Linked DNA regions of Homo sapiens: region 1 is linked to region 2. A link means that fine-mapping ties the variant in region 2 to the expression of a gene that starts in the linked region. Tissue or cell type: blood mononuclear cells. Region 2 holds a variant in brackets; the other region holds the start of a gene. All regions are shown on one strand. Distances are between the middles of the regions.

Evidence for each region. PIP is the estimated chance that this variant, and not a neighbour inherited with it, causes the effect.
Region 1: it holds the start of ARHGAP45, and the variant in region 2 is fine-mapped to the expression of ARHGAP45 in blood mononuclear cells (TOPMed, PIP 0.95).

What each region holds. Positions count from the first base shown.
Region 1 is chr19:1,065,519-1,068,161 of GRCh38, forward strand. ARHGAP45 (Rho GTPase activating protein 45) reads left to right here and starts at 1,649. Exons shown (of 23, transcript NM_012292.5): 1 at 1,649-1,977. The coding sequence starts at 1,888. ABCA7 (ATP binding cassette subfamily A member 7) reads left to right here. Exons shown (of 47, transcript NM_019112.4): 47 at 1-54. RefSeq lists an enhancer at 1,092-1,598 and silencers at 1,459-2,218, 2,529-2,643.
Region 2 is chr19:1,093,581-1,096,080 of GRCh38, forward strand. It overlaps POLR2E (RNA polymerase II, I and III subunit E), which reads right to left and starts at 1,795. Exons shown (of 8, transcript NM_002695.5): 1 at 1,679-1,795; 2 at 324-498. The coding sequence starts at 1,735. RefSeq lists enhancers at 446-981, 1,739-1,828. The variant G/A (reference allele first, on the strand shown) is at 1,295.

The DNA of each region.
Region 1 (2,643 bases), 28 kb before region 2:
CTGGTGCCCTGGAGAAAATAAAGAGAAGGCTGGAGAGAAGCCGTGGTGGTGAAACCGTGTGCATGTGTGTCCTTGAGCCAGGCTGCACACATGTCCACACAGCTGCCTGCACATGCGTCTGGATATGGCTGGCCCCTTGCAAGCTGAGTGTGCACATACGGGCCAAGTGGCGATTCATAGGACACAGGTGTGAGCGTGCCTACAGCTGACCGGATCCCAGCTGTAAATGCCTCTGTGGCCAGCCCAGGAGTTGGGGATGTGAGTGCGGGCCTCATAAGGGCCTGGTCACACCGTCCCTGTCCCCACGTCCCTGCGTGCCTATGTGGGGCTGGCGCCTAAGGGCGGTACCTGTAAGTGCCTGGCCATAAAGTGGGGATGAGGTCAGGACTCAGGAATGTCCTGGGAAGCTTACAGGAGCCCGGTGTCCCGGAGCACAGGCCAGGGCCGGGCCAGAAGCCCATCCGACATCCAGCTGACCCTCACCCTCTGACCCCAGCCCTCAGCGCCATGAGTCGGGGGCAAAGAGTTCTCAAGGGTCTGCTGGGCTGGGTTTGCACTTGGACCTGGGCCTGGAGAGCCAGACTTGGAGCAAGGGGCTGTGGCCTTCATGTCCTGTGCCCCAGAGATCTGCCCCTCCCACCCGAGGTAGGTGGGAATGGGGTTTGGGAAAGGAAAGAGGTTGGGGTTTTGGGATTGGGGGTGGGGTTCTGGAAGGGGACAGCAGGGAGACTTGGGGAGGGGGGAGAGAGTTCACACTGCGGGGTGGGGGTTGGGGGAAGGTAGGAGGCTGGGATCTGTATGCCTGCAGATGCCCCAGCTCTTGGCCAATGCCGCCTCAGGCTGTTATCAGCAACGGGTGCCTGCGTCCTGCTGCCCAGCACGTCCGGTGGTCCAGAGTCACTGGAATGCAGCTTGGGAGGCGGGGCTGGGGACCTTAGCTAAGGGCAGGTCTGGGGCAACATGATATGGCCCACAGGGCTGCTGAGAGGTAACCAGGTGTCCTCAGCATATTCTGCCGATGGTGGGGTCCACACCACACTTTGGGGACCCCTGTGCAGGCAGCCCAGGACCAGGTGGACGTGGGGACCCAGACGGACGTGGGGACCCAGACGGACAGGGCCCGGTAACCTGGATTGTTCTGACTTCCTGGACGTCTTTGCCCCCAGGGTTTCGGTTCTGGGCCTCAGTTTCCCCACCTGTCCTCGACCTGACCCACTTCACGGGGCTGCAGGGCGGGTGATGGGGGGGACCCTACTCTGCCCGGCCCTGCTGGGGCCCGGCCACACCCTAGGGTCTGCAGGAGAGGCGGTGGAGCGGGCTTGCCTTCAGGGAAAAGGGGGCTGCAGGGGCGCAGCTTCGGCCTGTGCGTGTGTCTGGGGTCTGAGGGCGAGGCTCCAGGGGCTTGGTGGCGTCTGAGCGCGTGTGGAGGTCCGGGTCTCTGCGTGTCATCGTGCACGTGTCTGTGCACGCCCACTCGCGTCCGGGAGTGAGAGTCAGCGCCCTGCAGTCGGCCGCCCCGTGCCCGCCAGCGTCAGGCAGGGGCTCCCGGTCCCACCCCGCGAGCGGCGCGGCTCCGAGCTCCCGAAGGCGGAAGCGGGGGGCGCGGCCCGGGGCTGGGGGCGGGGCCTGCGACCTCACCTTCGCGCCCACTCCGCAGAGCCGCAGGCTGAGGCCGGGAAGGGTCGGGGGCGAGGCCGCGTCGCCGCCTCCCCGAAGCCTTTTCCTGTTGGGGGGAGGGCCCGCCAGTGACGGCCGGGCCTGTCACGTGGGCCTGACAGCTGGGGAGGGGGTGGCCGGCGACAATGTGGTCCCGAAGCGGCCAGCGCCGGGAGCTGCAGCGCTGAGACCCCCAGCCCGCCCCCTCGGGCTCCCGGCCGGGGCCCCATCATGTTCTCCAGGAAGAAACGAGAGCTCATGAAAACCCCTTCCATCTCGAAAAAGAACCGCGCGGGAAGCCCCAGCCCGCAGCCCTCGGGGGTGAGTGGAGCCCGGGTGAGACCCGGAGCTGACGCCGGGCCGCAGGGGGACAGGGACCCGCCCTGTGCTCGGGGCTCATGCTGGGGCGGCGGCTGGGGGCTCGTGCCAGCTACAGCCCCTACCGGGCGGGACGGCAGGGGCCACAGCAGAGAGGCCGGGACCCCGGCATTCAGCTCACGGTAGGGACCCTGGGAGTGGTGGCCGCCTCCCTCCACTCCATCCAGGGCTGGCCGCGGGGCCCAGGGAGCAGGAAGGGAGGGTGCCGGGTTGGGACGATGTTGTGTTTGGGCCGCTGCAGGTTGGGGGCTTAGGCAATCTGGGGGCTCTAGGGGCCGTTGAGATGGGAGGGCTGTGGCCTGGCCATTGGGCTGAAGGTTGACCGGGCAGCAGATCCTCTAATGGGATCCACCAGGTTCAGAGGTTGGGGAGTGTCCCCAGGCCTGGGGTGTCTACAAAGCTGGGGGGGGGGTCTACAGAGCTTGGGGGTCCGGGATGTCTACAAGGCCTGGGGCTGCCCATAGGCTCTGGGGTTCCATGGACCTTTAGGGGACAGACAGAGTCAGAAGTGTGTTCACTTAAAGCACCTGCGTTGTAGGAGCCTGAGGGGGGCTTGAAGGGCTGAGGACCCTCCCCACCCCCACCAGGAAGTGGGGACCCCCCTCCCGC
Region 2 (2,500 bases):
CCAACGGCCAGGATGGGGGAGCCAAGGGACACTAGGGCAAAGGACATGGGGGGCTGGGGGTGAGTGGGGAGGCCCTTGTGACTCTCCTCGTTGGCAGGAAGAGAGAAGGGGACTGAGAGGGAAACTAGAAAGAAGCTGAGCATGAGAGGGGTCAGAGATCAACGGCATCACCCACAGCAAGGAAGGGGAGGGGAGTTTTCCTCCCAGACTGGGCAGAGAGACAAATGCTGGGCACCAGGCGAGTGGGGGTGGGTGCTAGCGACCGGCTCCTCGGCAGGTGCTCTGGTGGCTTCACCGGAACTCCCCCGGGACCCGCTGCTCACCTGGAAAGAACACAAACATCTGGTCGGTGGGGTCATCGTTGTGGGCCACCAGCACGGTGAGGTCCGTGCGCCGCGGCCGCCCCTCACTCGGCTTGTCCCCAGATTGGGCTTTGAACTCCTCCAGGGTCTGGTCAAGCTCGTCCTGGGTCACCAGATAGCCACGGTCGTGGCACAGCTGCAGAGAGAAAGAACCAGCTGACCCCAGGGCAGAGAGAGGAAGGCGGCCAAAGCTCGTGACCCGGAAGTCAGACCTGCGGCTGCTGCAGAGGACAGAGGTGAACAGCAAACGGGATGAACACTCACTGTGTGCTCCATGACAGCCACCCCGGCCCCCACAGCCTCACACCACAGGATGGGACCAGTATGATCCTGAGAGGCTCCCAGAGATGTCCAGCCTTGACCAAGACCGTCTGTCCACCCAGCCTCACAGAAACCTGGCAGGGAGCAAAGCCCTCCAAACCACTTTGCAGAGCTACCCTAAAGGCAGGGACAAAGGCGGGGCGCGGAGGCTCACGCCCGTGATCCCAGTACTTAGGGAGGCTGAGGCAGGAGGGTTGCTGGAGGCCAGTTCAAGGATGCAGTGAGCTATGATTGCACCACTGCACTGCAGCCTGGGCGACAGAATGAAACCCTATCTCTTAAAAAAAAAAAATGACAGGGACCGAAACAGATGTGACTTCAGGCTGACAATGTTTGAGGATCGGAGAAAGAAGAATCAGGCTGCGGGGGGCTTCGCTGAGGACAAGGGCAAAGGGTGGGAAGCAAGACAAAGCAAAAGCTCTCAAACGGCCCCAATGGCTGAGGCAATACCCTGAACCGCAGGTCCTCAGGCCTGTGCCCGGCTTCCAAACCGGACTCGACCCAGTGGCCTCCATCTGCCCCAGACCCCAAGGCACGGGTTCCGAGCTCCACGTCCCCATCGAAAGCCCCAGCTCGCCCGCTGCTTCCCAACCACCAACTCTGCCAGCCTC[G/A]GATGCTGAAGACTCCATGGGGTTCAGGACGCAAGGACAAATAGCGACGCTGAATCACAGAGAAGGGCAGAGTCTGGGGGCGCCCCCCGTCCCCATTCGCGGCTTCCTCCTCCTCTCGCCGCCACGCGCGCCGCACCAGCCCAAGCCGCCCACCCACCCCTAAGCACCGCACCCAGACGTCTCGAAACCCCCTCCCTTCCCCGCTGCCGGCTCAGGTCGGGTCCAGCGCCTGGTATCCCCGGCGACCTCTGGGCCTCCCGTATCGGCCCGGCCCTTCATCGCTGCTGCTCCGACGAGAGTACGAGGAGACGCCGTGCTCGACCCCACCTCGGGCCCCTACACCCGCCGCCCGCGCCCCCGCCCCCAACACCAGGCGCGGCTCACCTGCATGATGGTCTTGCGGATTTTCCAGAGCCGGTACGTCTCCTCCTCGTCGTCCATGGCAGCCTCCGCCGCCGCCGCCGCTCGCACCCCTTCTCCGCGCGAGAACCCGCGCGGACTGCGCCTGCGCCGAATCCGAATCAGGCCCCCTCCGCCTAACCCCGCCCCGCGCTGGTCTGTCGTCGGCGAATGCCTGAATGCAGCAACGTCTCGGATCGGCAGCGCCAAGGGCAGCCCGAGCCTTACGAGAGCGGCAGTTGGCTGAGCGAGTCTCTCGCCTCCGTAGTTCTCGTGTGTCTTTGGCCGCACAGCCTCTCGGGAGTTGTAGTTTCCGTTCAACTCCCACCTTGGAGCAACAGTTTAGAATCCCACGAGGCGGGGGCGAAGTGTGAGCGGGGAAACTGAGGCCTGGATGGGGTCAAGGGGCAGCTCGGCTCCTAGGGATGGTCTGGGAGCCTAGTGGGAACTCTATAAATATTTGTGCATCAAACTGTACAGGGTTTCCTCCATTGGCTCCTGGCCAGGTCAGGGTTAATTCCCTTGGGCCTCAGTTTCCCTACCTGTGCAATGGCAATAAAGTGTCCCTACTTTAGACGGTTAACTGAGAGTCTTAGGCATCTCTCTAGGTGCTTATTAAGTCCCCTCACCTCTGTCCTCTCCCCTGAGCGCCACCAGCCTAGCCTGGGTATCTCCCCAGCCTAGCCTGGGTATCTCCCCACCCCAGACTCTTCCTGTCTTTGCAAACCTCCTCACTTCCCCAGGTTCACGGAGAACCCCAGCCCAACACTTCCTGTGTGCAGGCTATCAGTAACTTATTCAGTGATG